Linked DNA regions of Homo sapiens. The protein of the gene in region 1 interacts with the protein of each later gene in a biochemical or structural test. Each region holds a gene or a part of one and is shown in the gene's direction. Other genes may lie near its edges.

Evidence for each region.
Region 2: of the proteins of RAP1A (region 1) and RAPGEF6, one has a biochemical effect on the other in vitro, tested with the Homo sapiens proteins (one study listed by BioGRID).
Region 3: the proteins of RAP1A (region 1) and RAPGEF1 form a complex in vitro, tested with the Homo sapiens proteins (one study listed by BioGRID).

What each region holds. Positions count from the first base shown.
Region 1 is NC_000001.11:111,713,789-111,717,191, forward strand, and holds the end of RAP1A (ras-related protein Rap-1A precursor), read left to right. Parts: 3' UTR 1-2,903; downstream 2,904-3,403. UniProt on the Homo sapiens protein: Counteracts the mitogenic function of Ras, at least partly because it can interact with Ras GAPs and RAF in a competitive manner. Together with ITGB1BP1, regulates KRIT1 localization to microtubules and membranes.
Region 2 is NC_000005.10:131,423,409-131,429,273, reverse strand, and holds the end of RAPGEF6 (rap guanine nucleotide exchange factor 6), read left to right. Parts: intron 1-57; coding exon 58-372; intron 373-1,982; coding exon 1,983-2,008; 3' UTR 2,009-5,353; downstream 5,354-5,865. UniProt on the Homo sapiens protein: Guanine nucleotide exchange factor (GEF) for Rap1A, Rap2A and M-Ras GTPases. Does not interact with cAMP.
Region 3 is NC_000009.12:131,730,065-131,737,120, reverse strand, and holds part of RAPGEF1 (rap guanine nucleotide exchange factor 1), read left to right. Parts: intron 1-7,056. UniProt on the Homo sapiens protein: Guanine nucleotide-releasing protein that binds to SH3 domain of CRK and GRB2/ASH. Transduces signals from CRK to activate RAS. Involved in cell branching and adhesion mediated by BCAR1-CRK-RAPGEF1 signaling and activation of RAP1.

The sequences.
Region 1 (3,403 bases):
GGGTGATACTACTTATGTAGTCTCTATAAAGAGAGGTAGAACAAAAAGCTTGTTAGCCAATTAAGTTCTGGAAAAGGAAAGAAACAAGCTTAGAAAACCCTGTGCCTTGTCCTCAAATATTAAGGAGGAGACAGACCAGTCCTAGAAAGTCTAAGTCATTGCTCAGGGATCTCTAGATACTGTCTCTTTGCAACTAGGTATGAAGAAGTGTTCATGCCTTGCTGAGATTTTCCAGGCATGTGGTCAGCCTGTCACTTACTAAACTGAAATTTTAAAATCAGGTTTCAAATGTTAAGCTTTGACCAACCTGAGAAAATGTTAAAGTATTGTTTTTAAAAAAATGGAAATTTTTTTTGTTTGTGTTTTTGTTTTAGTTTCGAATAAACTTAGTTACCTTACACTTCCCTTCTACTTATCCAATTATGCATATGTCTGGGATTGAGGGGCCAAAACTATAGCGAACTTGAATGAAGTATTAGGGCCAGTTGTCAGGTCAGGGTGGCATCTTTTATTTTAAGGTCCTCTAAAGTCATTCTGCTTTAAAACACCCCTCAAACATACCTTTAAACTTAAGATCATAGACAGACATCTCATCAACCAGTAAAACTTTCTAAATACTACCTTGTCACATCTATTGTGTAGTTATTTAACAGATTAAATAGAAGTCATTTAATAAGACTCCAAGTCTCAGTCTGCTTGACTAGTAGCATAAACTCAGTCTATTCTATTTTAGAATGTGGTGGAGAAAGATGATAGTTATTAGATTCCTTTGTCACATCTTATACAGTCCACTTGGGTTAAAGGTGGAACTGTCAAGAAAAACGCCTTTCTGGCACACAGTGATATGCAGAGCAGGACCAGCTGAAGTCAGATGTGCAAGGAAATCTGTGGTTGCTGAGCAGGATGAAAAGTATCCTGTTAGAAAGTGAGATAGGTGTGTTTTTATATTGTCCTAATGTGAACTCCTTAGTCTTGGTTCCAAAGGGAAGGGTACCTGAAAATAAATGTATTTTTATAGCTGAAAAATCAAGAGTTTCTAGGATATTGTGTGAATGTCAAATGATAAATATCTAGAAACTGATTTCATATTAGTATGTGTGGCTATTTAAAGTATAATGACTTTGGTTTGGTTATATGAGTGACACAGAATTTAAGGAGGCTTCATGCCATAGTTCATAGTTTGCTCTAATGGCTTGGTGGTATCCCTGAACAGTCTACTTTTAGAAATTAACAGTAAATACACAATCCAGCTGTAATCTTACCCTCCACCAGGGGGAGCTTCAACATCGGTTAATACTTTTTTTTTTTTTGAGATGGAGTCTCGCCCTGTCGCCCAGGCTAGAGTGCAATGGCTCAGTCTCCGCTCACTGCAACCTCTGCCTCCCGGGTTCAAACAGTTGTGCCTCAGTCTTCCAAGTAGCTGGGATTACAGGCACCCGCCACCACGCCCAGCTAATTTTTGTATTTTTAGTAGAGACGGGGTTTCATCATGTTGGCGAGGCTGGTCTTGAACTCCTGACTTCGTGATCCGCCCCCCCCTCAGCCTCCCAAAGTGCTGGGATTACAGGCGTGAGCCACCGCGCCTGGCCCGGTTAATACTTTCATAAGCATTGAAGTAACTATTTAAGTCCTAGTACATAAACACTGTGTGGTTCACAAAAAGGCATAGAGACATTCTCTCAAGAGTTTACAATCTAATTGGGCAGGGAAGATACTACAGTTCATCAAAGATATGAATAACACCCTAGTTTTCTGAACTGCAGCTGCATGGGTAATTATCTTAAGAACTTTTGGCAAAATATGGATGTTGGTGTGTTACTCTCTTCTCCCTACAACTCTGAACTAATCTGTGTTTGGCACCTTGATTTGCCATCATAAATGGCCACCATTTACTCCTCACTGAAATATTCTTCTTCTTTGAGGTTATAATGTACTTGGAAAAGTTAATACTTATAGAAAATAATGATCTTTATTACCAACTTTATTAAAACAGGCTTGGAACATTTTTCTCCATAGAAGAATAGTAATAAGACATTCTACATTTCCTGGACATGGCCAGTTTAAAATATTTTGCCCCATTACCCTTGTAGATACACATGTATTTGTCAGTTTATGTGCCTCAGTTTTGTCTTAGGCACTGAGGGACAGAAAGAGAAATAAGGAATACCTTGGTATTTTCCTTTGCAAGCAATCACAGCAGAATGCTAGAAAACATAAAATATACTCTTATAAATTGTATGTGTGTTGAAACCAAAGTGTGAAGAAATTGTCAGGTATTTGGAGGAGGAAAATAATTTGTAAAATAACCTTTTTAAGAATTTGGATTTTGTACTTATTTAAGGTGCTAAATATGTGTTAAAATATCCCCTCTTGAATCAGCTCCAGGCTTAAAAGGGCAGAGTGGTTTGGATTCTTGTCCAGGGTCTGGAAAGAGCTCATCTTGCCGAGAGGGAAATAAATGTGAGCTTTGAGGCGGTCTAACTACCCAGCTTTTAGTATTTATGTTCCCCAAAATGTAAAAACTGTAAGTTATTCTTGAAAATGTAGTCCAGACATTTCTTTGATCCTGGATTTTACTGCAGTTTCATCATGGGTTTGTTGAATGTGCAGTCCATTTATTGCCCTGTCTTGCTTAAATATTCTTGTTGAGAACAGCTGGAGGCTTTGACTGGGTTCCTAGTTCTGTTTTCTGGGAAGGCAACGTGGATTCTGTTTTGTAGACATTAATGAGCTTTAAATGGGAATTGGGGATGATGTATGTTCGTTGGGCATGCTGAGAAGCGGCCTCCTGTGGTTCTGGGCCCAAGGTGTGACATACATTTCCCACTAATTGCTTCTCTCAAGAAGCAAGAGATTGGCTGTTCCTCTTGAGGAAAAACCTTAATAAACCTTCCCATTTTAAACAGTGGTGTGACTCTTATTTTGAGCTGTTGTTTTCAATGAATTTTTTTAAAGCTTACCATGTTCAAATTTTTGTGCTGAATGTTGTAGGACATGCAAATCAGAACAGGACATGATCCTTAGGGGCCTACCAACAAATATTCATTGCACTTCTACTGTATGGCAAGTGCTGATCTGCATGCCGCGGAAACAACAGTGAACAGTACAGACTCAGATCCCTTTCCTCGTGGAGTTTTTATCTTTAGAAAATGGTAAAAGATAACTTGTGTAATGATGAGTGCTTTGAAGAAGAATTAAGCCGTGTAAAGGGGCAAGAGTACTGGGCAGAGGTGGTGGTAGTGGGTTAATATCTCATTGAAGTTGATACTCGAGTAAGTGTTCAAAGTGAGCAGCCCATGCAACTGCCTGGGGGAAAGGAGGATTTTCCATTCCTTGGGGAAAGGGTCTGTGCCAATGCCATGAGGTGGACATGTGCCTGGTGTGTTGAAGACTGGCAAGGAGG
Region 2 (5,865 bases), on another chromosome or scaffold:
TCTTTTTTTTTCCATTTCTTTTTCATTAACATTTTCATTGCTTATTTTTCATGCCAGTGTACTGTGTCACCTCACCCAAGAAGGACGATAGGTATAGGGAGCCACCTCCCACTCCTCCAGGATATTTGGGGATTTCTTTAGCGGACCTAAAGGAAGGACCCCACACACACCTAAAACCTCCAGATTATAGTGTGGCAGTGCAGAGGTCAAAGATGATGCATAACAGCCTCTCTAGACTGCCACCAGCTTCTCTCAGTAGCAACCTCGTGGCCTGTGTTCCATCGAAGATTGTAACTCAGCCTCAGAGGCATAATTTGCAGCCATTCCATCCTAAACTAGGAGATGTGACTGATGCAGATAGCGAAGCAGATGGTATGTTGACAAGCTCTCTTAAAGGCTCTTAAATGAATTGCTGAACACATTAAATGGTCTTTACTTTGGTATTTTATGGTAATTAGTAATTGTTTCTTTAAATGCCTTGAATCTCTGTTAAAAAGTAAGAAGTTCCTGCCGGCAGGGTGCAGTGGCTCACACCTGTAATCCCAGCACTTTGGGAGGCTGAGGCGGGCGAATCACCTGAGGTCGGGAGTTCCTGACCAGCCTGTCCAACATGGAGAAACCCCGTCTCTACTAAAAAAATACAAAATCAGCCAGGCATTATGGCGCATGCCTGTAATCCCAGCTACTCGGGAGGCTGAGGCAGGAGAATTGCTTGAACCTGGGAGGCAGAGATTGCAGTGAGCCAAGATCGCACCATTGCACTCCAGCCTGGACAACAAGAACAAAACTCTGTCTCCAAAAAAAAAAAAAAAGTTCCTAAATATAGTATGGGGGAGTGTTTTGGTTTTGTTTTATTTTTCAAGATAGGGTCTAACTCTGTTGCCCAAGCTTAGAGTGCAGTGGCACAATAATGACTCACTACAGCCTCAGACTCCTGGGCTCAAGCAGTCCTCCCAACTCAGCCTCCCAAGTAGCTGGGACTACAGGTGCACACCAGCATGCCTGGCTCATTGTTAAATTTTTCCTTTGTAGAGACAGGGTCTCACTATATTGACCAGGCTGGTTTTGAACTCCTGGCCTGAAGCAGTCCTCCCACCCCAGCCTCCGAAAGTGTTGGGATTATAGGTGTGAGCCACCACACCCAGCCAATGGTGTGGGTTGTTTGTTTGTTGAGACAAGGTCTTGCTGTGTCACTCAGGCTGGAGTGCAGTGGCATGATCGTGGCTCACTGCAGCCTCAACTTCCTGGTCTCAGGTAATTCTCCCTCCTCAGCCTCCCAAGTAGGTGGGACTACAGGCACACACCACCACACCCAGCTAATTTTTTGTATTTGAGACAGCATTTTACCATGTTGCCCAGGCTGGTCTTGAACTCCTGGACTCAAGCAATCTGCCAGCCTCAGTCTCCCACAAAGTTGGGGTTATGGGTGTGAGCCACTGTACCCCGCACTGATGGTGTATTTTTTAAATGAAATGGGCAAGCTGCCTATTTCTGTGTGCCTAGTACCCTGTGGCTCAAATGGAATATTCTTATCTTTGATGAAACAGTGGCTCAATCTAATGGGATACTTTTAACATTAATGGAATTGTATTTTACCTTAATGCATGGAAACTTGAAACTGTGTTTCAAATGCCAAATTATCTGAAATGATTCTATTGATATAGTTCCTTTTATTAGCAAAAGTCTTGACTGACTTTGTACCTGTGCCAATAGTTTGAGAAATGATTGTTTTATTGAAAATAAATGAAAATTTATGCTTTTAAACAAGAGTAATAAAATGATTAAAAACCATGAAATTCCAGTTTATTGTCAACCTTCAATGTGATCAGAAATCATAGGTATTATTATAATAAAATCTGGGCCTCGATGCAATGTTTGAGAGGATTTCTTTGTTGACATTGATTTTCTAAATAGATAACTAGATTATTAGGATCTCATTAATATGCTGATCTGCCAGTTAATTATATATTTTTTATTTTCAGAAAATGAACAAGTTTCAGCAGTCTAGCCTTTGGATGACCTATTTGAAAACCACTGAAAGTCGTGGAGGAATGGGCAAGAACCACCTCATGATTCTGCAGGCCATTGCTAACGAACAGCTCATTGCTACAACCAGTCCAGAGGTTTTATTCCCTCTACTCCGAGCAATGAAATAGACCTGAGTTATGCTTCCTTTCATTTAATTTCTGCAGATAAATAGTTTCCTGAGCAATGGATGCTATGCCTGGATACCAGTCTCCACTTTGCACGCCGGAACTGCCTTGGGACCACAGTTACAGAAAAAATGTAAACTCAGAGTGATCCTTGTGTATATTGCTATAGATTTTTCTTTAACAAGCTATTTTAAAGATAATGGCATTATTATTTCCAAGCCATAGCTTGGGCTGAAGGACAAATTGAAATTGTCTGCCAATACCAAGGATATTCTTGTATATTTGAAAAATAACTTATTATTTGAATTGTTGTGGTTTTGTTTGTATTTGAGAGCTCTTGTTAGCTGATATTCATGTTTGAGGTCATAAAATTGTCTCTGGTCTGACCAAACAGAAGTCATCTTTACAGAGGTGATATGCTTGATCTACACAGAGATGTGACTTGATCTGTAGCACCAATGCAATGTAGGTCTCAGTTTGAGAGAAATAGGAAGCCCTTTGCAGTTGAGGTGTTAGGAACCTGCTGGTCATGGTGTGGAAGGCCAAATGAAGCTGCCACAGGGTTTCTTGTCAGTCCTTTGGGAAATGGGAGGGAGTAGTTTGGGGAGGAGGGTGGGAACCCTAATTTCCACAGAATGAAATTTTGATGTTAAATGACATGTATACAAATTCTTCCTTAAGTGAAAGTTATGCTGCATCGAATTGTAACTGAAAGTATAGATCCAACAAATAGAGACTGGGTTCTAGAGAGTTCTGGTCTATAGAAACCCAAAACTAAAATCTCTCATAACTCAAGTATGGAATACTTTTTTTAAAGAAATTCTTATCATGGGTGTTGTAATAATGAAGACGAATTTGACTTTATGCAGTGTTCTGCAGCATGCCTCCCCCACATCTCATAGCACCAGGTTGTGTCTGACCTGACATACCCTGCAGCTCTCAGCTGGCTGCAGTAACATTTTGTGGGAGAAAGAGGAGCTGGAGTTACAGAAATGATTGTCTCTTGGTTCTCAGTTTTTAGCCCTTGAGAGGACATACTTTTCCAGCCTCATGGGTATGGCACTCTTAATTAAAATTTCAGTGACTGTTTACTGGATGAGGCAGATTTTTCACATTTTTGCAAATTAAATATATTTTATATATATTAAGTTTAATTTTTTCAGTTTTTTTAATGTAAAAGCAAGTGAAATTTTAATAAACTTCTGTAATTACCAAAAAAAAAAAAAAAAAAAAAGCCAAAGCCATTAACGTGCACTACCCAGATCAACTTGGAGCCAAAAGGGGTTTACTTCTGAATGGCTGTCCGTATGTGTCCACATAGGATTTAGTTGGTTTGTGGCCTCCTTTATAGAAATGTGTTGTCTTTCCCTAGCTGTCTCTGCTGTCTGTCTTCCTGCATATCCCCCTTCATTTTAAAATCATGAATCAGTTGTAAGTGGTAAATGGTAGTAGTTCATCTTTCCCATCAACATGATTGTCTCTTTATTTTAGGAATAATAGCATTTCAAAAATTCCTGTGGTAAAGAAACATTAATCTGAAACTTAAGCCTTAGAAATTAATCGCAGGTATGATAGAATGAGGCTTGGTGGTTCCATAGCTTTCTTGGTCCTTTGAAATGGGAAATAACCTGAACCAAAAATCCTAGTTTGAAAGTTACACTTCAGTGATTTGGCCTATAAACAGTGGTCCTATGATTATACATTTTTTCCTTCACTGATTTGCATAATTTTGTTTTCATGGCCACAGCAAAACAATGTGAAATATATTTTTGCTATACCCACTTTTTTTATCAAATTCAGATGTCTACTCTCACCATTTTATATTCATTTCCCCAGAAAAATGTGCTGTTTTCATAATGTCTTTATTTAGCAGGTCTTTCAAACCAAATGGAAGCCTTACCTGTCTTTGTCCTTAATAGTGTAAATATCTTGCACAGAGTGTTGAGGCCTATGGTTTTGGACTTGCACCTTACAGCTGCCTTTGTTTTATCTATCTAGCTTTAACTGTGAGTGTTCAGATCAGCTGATCACATTGATCAGGAGCCAAAGCCAAATGCTTTGTAGTTTGTTATGTATGTATCCCTTAAAAAATCATGAGGTTTTGATTTTTATATTTTAACTAAGGGTACATTCCTGCCTTCTCTTAGTTTGTCATATGACTAGAACAAGAGAAGTCTTAAGCTGCATTTACTCCAATTCCAGATCTCCATTTGTTTTTGTTTTATAAATTTATAATCTTAATGAAGAGACTAGTGCCCTCTCTTCCTGCCACAACTCTCAATCTGCCAAGACTGTTGAAGCAGTTAACGCTCAGTGCAAACTTTTGCCAAATAGTAAGTTTCAACAAAATATCTTTATAGTGAAAGATTTTGAGAATTAGTAAATCCAGTACATGATTCCATAAAAGCTTATTAAAGTTAATAATTCTAATTTACTCCAAATGATTACTTTCAATATGATCTTTGGGGAGAAAAAGCCTTTAGTGAATTTTCTTGAGGGTGATAAATCACATCATTGCGATCTATATCACCTCCTTGAGAATCTCTCCCAGGCTGAAAATGTGATGGTAATCATGGGTGTTTTTAAGAACAAATCTAATTTTTATCAAGTGTTCTTTCCTCTACAAAAAAGGAAGGAGGAGAAAAAGCTTCCTTAAAACTGATTATTTTGATTCAATTTTAAGTTTCTAAAAAAGGTGATATTAAAGTATATGTATTCCTTCAGCATTACCTTAAAGGCTAGAAAAACGGGATAAATCTTCAGAAAAGTGTCAAAAGTGTCACAGTACATGTTCAAATTTAAACTTGAATCCTGGTTCATCTTTGACTTTTGTTGTGCATTTTTAATGCTTCTTTATTTTTGATACACAGAATGCAGTTGAACTTGATCTTTTAAAATTGAGACATGTAAGCTAATCAGCAAAAGACAGAAACAAAACTGCACATCTGTAATAATCAGATAGCAATTCTACTGCACAATTCATTGATTGTAAGGTATCCTGTAACAAGCAATGTTTGTCTCCTATTTTTTGATACCTCTTAAACTTATGTCTTTTAGAAAGACAGTGCCTCTGTATGCTTTTTGTATTTTTACTGAGTGTAAATATTTGTTATATTTTTGGTTAAGAGAATGTAAAAATACCATTTATTATTATCATATCTACTAATACATTGGTGGAATCAATAAAGAATCTACATTAATCTTCTCTGTACTTAATTATAAATGTATGGAACTGATGAAATAATTACAAACTTAGTCATTCGAGAGTGCCAGTCTGGGACCTGTGTTGGTGTGAAGGCCTTATTTTTTAACTATCCAGAAAAATTGGAGTGGTCCATTTGTTGTTGGTTATGTCAAATCTGTGAAACACCATAGCTATTGTTTAGGTTTAAAAAATTGTGTTTGATGGCATACCAAGTTAACAGTGGCTTAAACTCAATTGGGGCTTGTCTTTTTGTTATTGTTGTCTGTTTCTTTTTCTTCTTACAGTAGAAAAGTCTACAGACAAAACTGTCCGGGGCTGATACTGTAACTCCTCCACGATGCTGTCAAGGATGGCAAAAGTAGGGGTGAAAAGGATAGGCTTAGGTAAGGAAAAGGTGCAAATATGTGTCTCTTTCTACGCAAAGAGAACAAAACAGTAGTTTCCAGAAGCTCCACTTGCATGTTTGTACTTACATCCCATTAGTTAGACCTCTGTTGCATGACTGGT
Region 3 (7,056 bases), on another chromosome or scaffold:
CAGAAGGTCTTTTGCTGCAGTTCATAGGAATCATAGTGAAAGATTACAACTGCCAAGGAAGACTGGGGCGCGCCTGGAGTGAGGATGACCTTTCCTGGTGGTCTCTGCTGGCTATTCTCAGTGAACTTCCCTTTGCATTTAGACGACATTTTGTTAGATTTCTGTTGGAGTTTTTTTAATGGACTTCCCACTATTCAGTCTCCAGAGGAGTATTTGATTCAGAGGAGAGGCCCTTAGGTGAAGTGGTGGCAGAGCCTGACACCAGGCAAACAATTGTTGTGATTGGAGTTTTGCTGTTTTGTTATCTCAAAGCAACAGAAACGTTGCTTAAATATGTTCATAATCTCCTCTCCCTGAAAGTAGAAGAACCAGCGTTTTTAGTTCTCAGTGCTTAAGGCATCCAGGGTTTTTTGGGTAAACAGGAAACCCCTTCACATCCCGCATAGTGTGCAGCTCTGGCCTGTTCCTCATCCCGCCCCCTTGCATTGCCTGATACCTCCTTGGTGTGCAGGACTCTCCTTAACCCCTGGGGGAGATCTTTTGAGTCATTGCTGTTCTTTGGGACATTTTCTTTCTCATGCAGCAGTGCCTGGCTGGGGCAGGGCCTTGAGGGGTTCATCCATACCTATGTATATCCTCAGAGAATACACAAGGTCATAGGCCTCACATTTGGGGGTCCCAAGTGCCATGGGGAATCAAGACAGTCTGGGCCAGAGGGTGGCACAGGGACAACTTGCTGGGCTGGTGGGGGCCTGTCAAGTGAGGCCTGGTGGAGAAAGGTTGAATTTGGAGGGCCAGGAACAAGCTGGGATGCAGGGGAGGCTTTCTAAACTCTACAGTGCTTCTAGAGATGACGAGGAGGTAGGGAGTAGAAGAGAGCTGGACAGATTAGGGAGCTCCCAGGGTGAGCTTGTGGGCAGGCCTGCAGAGGAGAAGAGGCTCTTCCCTAGGAGCTCAGAGGGATTTGTTCTGGAAGACTGATGGGAGATGTATGCAGCTGTTTAGAGGCTGCTTTGGAGAACAAATGAACATGGTTCTGGTTGTGCAAGCAGTTACTGTGGTTCTTTTTGCTCATATATCTTCCAATAAAGACATTGAGCGAGGAGAGTTGATACCGTCATGTTTTTGGAGCTTAAGCACAGACTGGCAGCTGCGGGCTGGATTCAGTCCACAGATATGTTGGGTTGGATCCGCACGTGTTCTTGAGGAAAAAAACAAAAGAATTGATGGTCAATATTGAAAAATCAGGAAGTCACTCAAAAATCTCAAAAGCCTGGTTCCTGATTTCCTTGAAAAATGAGAATCTCTGGTAACTCTGAGCGCTTGTTCCTGCCTACAAGGCAGCTATGGGCAGGAGTCAGGTGGCGGACACTCCCACAGAGCCCCTCACCACTCCCACAGCCAGCCACACCTCCGACGGCCCACTTGGACTTTTGACATTTGCGTTTGCATCCCCTCCTCGGAGAAATGATTCATGTTTGTTTGTTTTTGTCTGGACTTTGAAACCTTTGCCCCATCCCTTCATTGACTCATTACTCCATCCCTCATTCATCAGGGATTGAGCACCGGCTCCATCAGGCTCCGTACAAGGCTCTGGGGACTCAGTGGTGAACTCAGCAGATGTCGTGCTGCCTGCCCTGAATACAGGCATCCTCTGTGTGTCACAGGGTGAGCAGGAAGGTGGCAAGAGATCAGACTTGCAGTGGGGAGGGATGGTCAGGAAACTCCTGTGCTCCTGTGACAAAATGGGACTTAAGGTGAGAGGCGGAGGATGGGTCCACTTAGCTGGGCACAGGCAGTGGGGTAGGGGACCAGTCTCCTGGGGTGGGAGCAGACCAAGGCCTCCTCAGCTGAAGGGAAGAAGGTCCTTGGACTGCATGTGTCAGTTTCAGTCACTCATTCCTTTCTTCCCTCCTTCAGTGGCTTCACTCATCGCCTGCCTCACGGAGCAACCTCCTGAGGGCCTGGAGTTGTTCTTGTTCTTGGGACACAGCAAAGATCCCGGCCTCCTGGGCCATACCTTCTAACTGGGCTGGCCATAAGTTAAGCAGTTTTGTATGTATGTTTTTAAAGTCCCTTTCCTTCCTCTCTGTGCTCCCAGCGAACCACAGGCTGGCTGGGAGTTTCATCATTTACCAGACCCTCCTGCCAGCGCTGTAGCTCCTGTCACCTTGGAGCAGTTCACTGGGCCTGCTAAAGTGGCCACAGGCTTGCCCAGCACGCTGCCTGAAGATGGAATAAATAGGTGTCTCACGCTCAGTGTGCTACGGTTTCAAATGTGTGAAGATGCTTTTATTGTAAATCGAAAAGAAATTTATAATGACTGCATTTCATGGTCACATTTTTGTCATGATATATTTTCTCAGAACAGATACTAAGAGTACAGGCCCTATGATGTAGGGCTACTCATTTTTGTGGCCTGAGAAAGAGGTCCTCTTAGATTGGCAGTCATTGTATTTCGATCAATTTTAAACTCGTCAAATTTGTACTTCCTTTTTCCTCCATAGTTAGGAATTTTTGTCGTCAAAGTATACTCAGTCAAGCAATGAGACATTTTGATGGCACCTGCTCTGCCTCCTTTCACTCACCCGTTTTAACACTTACTGAGTGCCTCCTTGTTGGCAAACACCAAGTGATGCCTCGTGGCAGGGAGCCAGCAGGAACCTGTCCCTGGAGGCCACAGTCCAGGGGTAGAATCAGAACGATCTTGAACATCTCTGCAATTTCCTGTGGTTTTCAGAATGCATTTATAGACTACCTCATTTCATTTCATCCTCACAACAGCCCAGGGGGTGAGGGCAGGGCGGAGTATCCCTCTTTTGCCCCTCAGGGCAGCTAAGGCCCAGGGAAATTTGGTTGTTTGCCCAAGGTCATGCCCTGGAGAAGTGGAATGGGGAACCGGCCCCCTTTCTTGCCTTTATAGAGCACTGGTTAGAGCCTCCCTGGTTGCTGGGGACACAGCTTTCCATCTTAATTCTTCAGGCTTCTCAATCTCTTTTCTGATCTTTGAAAAAAAAGATCTACCAATGAAATTAAGGGAGGCTCACTACAGTCTTTAGACTGCGTCTGATACTCGTAATACTAGTCACATTAACAGTGCTGTAGAGAGATAAGAAATAGCACTAATGCCAGCTAAGTGTGTTTTTAGAAAAATCAACCACAGCAACCCCAAATGTTTCCTGGTCTCCAGAGCAGCTGTTGGCAGAGGCGGTTTGAATGGGATTCCTTGTAGCCAAGAGACCTTATAGGAGGTCTGTAGAGATGAGTCATGTGTGAGCTTGCAGAAAAATGTCTCCCAAAGTAGCCCGGATTGGAGATTGCCTTGAGTGCCAGGCTGGGTCTTACCTCAGGCCAGCTGAGCGTGTTCCCCATGGCCAGGATAAGATCACGCTCTGGAAAGAGGAGAGGCCTGACAACCCACCGCCTGCCCCACCCCGCGGCCGCCTCGCCGCCGGGACAGGTGTTCCTCTGACTCGTCACCCGTCTTGCCCCAAAGGCTGTTTTATGAGTAAATAAATAAAACCCACCGTTTGTGAATTATTAAGGGATCTGTCATCCAGCAGGCCAGTCATCTTAGTTTCTGGTCATCTGTTTGAGAACATCTTAGTTGTGTCCTTGGGTGATTCTTACCCTTTCCTGGGGCTTATTTTCCCCATCAGTGCCAGGAAGGAGTGGGACTCAAAAGGAGCGCTCCTCTGTTTGTGTTTTTAAGCTGTAGCCACTGCCCCCGCCAACCCCGCACCACCCCCCCCCCCGCCCCCGCCCCGGCTTTTTTAAATTTTAAGTTCTGGAATACATGTGCTGAACGTTCAGGTTTGTTACATAGGTATACATGTGCCGTGGCGGTTTGCTGCACCTATCAACCCGTCATCTAGGTTTGAAGCCCCGCATGCGTGACTGCAGGCCCTTTTTTATACATAAGAAGGCCATTAGGTAACCACTAATGGGGAAGCCTCTTTGAATGCAGTCCTTCCTGCTTAGCTGTGGCCGAGGCTCCTCCTTGGACCCTCCACCCCAAACACAATGTGAAAACCCACTTCCTCGATGCTCTCACAGCTGCCTCTACCAAAATCAACTTCCTCTGGGCTCTTTGTGCCTTCTCTTCCTCTAACATATAGTAAATTCCATGGAAATGCCCCAGATCAATGCTTGAGTAGAATGATGTTTCACTCATTCAAAATCAAAGCCCCAGTTTCCTTTCTGCAAGTTAAAAAATCAACAAGTGAAATGTTAAACAGATGATTAGCTCCGTGAGGGAGTGTGTCTACCACTGCGGTGCCATTACGGTGCCTTGAACGCAATAGGTGCTCAGTAAATACTTACTAAAAGAATGAGTGAATTTAGTTAATATTATCATAGAATGAATTTTAGTTTCTGGTTCCAAGTCTCAAATTATCTTTAGACGTAGCTTATTGTGGTTTCAAATTGCCAATTAGGATGTTTCTTGGTACATTAGTAGGACCAATATCTGATCAGTGGTGTGCAGTTAGTTGGGGGTTCTGTGTTTTCCTGTAGTCCTCTGAACACTAATGATGAGGTTAGGATCAAATTCCCAGAACACCACTGGGAGAACGCCAGGACACCGTGAAGGCTGAGCCGCCACTCGGTTCTGATGCCGCATCCATTGGTCAGTGCACGTTCTTTGAGCTTCCACTTGAGTGCACGTTCTTTGAGCTTCCACTTGAGTGCATGTTCTTTGAGCTTCCACTTGTAGTGACTGCCTGGTTCTTTGGGATGTGCAGGAGCAAAGCGCTCTTAGGTAATGCTCGTTCTGCCCTGTGTTTACAAACCAAGGCCTGTGCCAGCTCTACTCAGCCTGACACCCATAATGAGCACCATCCCAGGAATCCCTGTCCCTACTTGTTATTTTTTTTTTTTTCAGTTGGCCTTTGAATGTGATTTAGGACTGGCTTCCTGCAGCATTACTCTCTTTTCCCAGGATGACTGTGCAGCGTGTGCTGTCTAGGGCTGGGGTGCAGGCTGTTGGTGTGCCTCTGGCACCCCCTTCCTTCTTTGTCAAGAGGCATGGGCAGTATTTTCTTGCTACTTCCCCCTCCTCTGTGAGCTAAGGTACAGGGGGGGAGGTTCATCTGAATTTATTAGAAATCTGCTGTCTGCTGGTCACAATTCCTTTCTCCCACTTTCTTCTCCCAGGCTGTAGTTTGAAAGACAGGTGACAATTCTCTGAACCCAAGTCCCACCCTGCAGTCTGGACTGCTGCTTCCCGGAACACCACGACTCCTGTAACAGCTTAGACTTCTGTCCCCACAGTCCCTTAGCAGCAGCTTTCTCTTTGCTTTTCACTGGCTTGCCCAAACCACACAGTGACTTTACTGCATATTAAGTTTTGTGATCAGGCGATTCTGCAGTGCTTTTAAAGCGTAGAAATGGAGCACTGAGCACAGGATGCTGTGTGGTTTGCCCAGGGCTGGGTTCAGAGGGGCGGATTTCAGGCATTTGCTCTATAGCTTTTAAAATTTGTGCCACTGATGTGGACCTGACAGATGCGATTCCCAGCCACACACTGTATTGTTAAAAACGGAGCAGGAGTGTGACACTGACAGTAACTGAGAGAAGGAAGGACATGGAATGAGAAGAGAGGACAGCTGACATCCAGTGGAATGTGACCGTGTTAAATAGCCACTTAGCTGACCCCAAACGAGCAAACAAACAAAACCCCTGGTTGGAAACAGTGGTTGTATTTATTTGCTGGTTATCACATGCGCCCATCCTCCTTCAAGTGATGGTTCTGAATAAATAGATGGATGATTGTTCATGAGTCATGGAATTGGCTACTCTCAACCCCTCCTTTCAATAATAAATACAAATAATAGTAGTAGCTGATGTTCATTAGGCACTTACCACGTGCTGTACCAGGCTCGCTTCTGTATATTTTACACTTGTGGTTGCATTTAATCCTTACAATAGGAGAAAGGTACTGTTAACTGTTCTCATCCTACAGAGGAGGAGACTAAGACACAGAGCTTTTCTTTGAGACCTGAAAGAGTTAACATTTGCACATAGTCATATACTGAGTTGGGGCAAAGTTAGGACTAAAGCCCATCTGACTATTCCCCATGCATCTATATTTTTATTGATTCTGATATTATTCTCTTGGCTGTGTGACTTGGGTGAAAATGAGCCTTCATGTTTCCAGGGACCCCTCTGCCACAGAGGCAGCTGCTGCACTAACAGGACACCCCATCATCCTGAGGATTCCTTCAGAAGACAGCTCTCCTCCTGACTGTCCTGCTGGAGCTCACAGGGGGCTGCGGAAGCCTTGCTTCTGGCTGGGTGACCGTGGGCAAATTGCTTAATCTCCTGAGCCTCAGGTGCCTTTGTTGTAATTTGGTAGGGTGGATAAACCCACCCCGGAGCCCTTTCTAATGCTGGTTCTTCTTCTTTTTTTTTTTTTTTTTTTTTGAGATGGAGTCTCACTCTGCTGTTGCCCAGGCTGGAGTGCAATGGGGTGATCTCGGCTCACTGCAACCTCCCCCTCCCAGGTTCAAGCAATTCTTCTGCCTCAGCCTCCCAAGTAGCTGGGATGACAGGCGCCCGCCACCACGCCCGGCTAATTTTTGTATTTTTAGTAGAGATGGGGTTTCACCATGTTGACCAGGCTGGTCTCTTTGGCCAGGCTGGTCTTGAACTCCTGACCTTGTGATCCGCCGCCTCAGCCTCCCAAAGTGCTGGGATTACAGGTGTGAGCCACCTCCCAGCCTAAGGCTGGTTCTTTGGGAGTCTAGACTGCAGTATGTGGGGTGGACTTATTGAGGCTTGTTTTGTTGATGATTTTTAATGGCAGTAAATGTTGGATAGCACTTAACTAATCATCAAAATAGCTTTTGAAACATTTTTGTACACATTAGTTTCTTTGTTGTTTTGGGCTTTGTTAATTTGTTTCTTTTTTTTTTTTTTTTTTTTTTTGAGAGGGAGTCTCGCTCTGTTGCCCAGGCTGGGGTGCAGTGATGCAGTCTCGGCTCACTGCAAGCTCCACCTCCCGGGTTCACGCCATTCTCCTGCCTCAGCCTCCTGAGTAGCTGGGACTACAGGTGC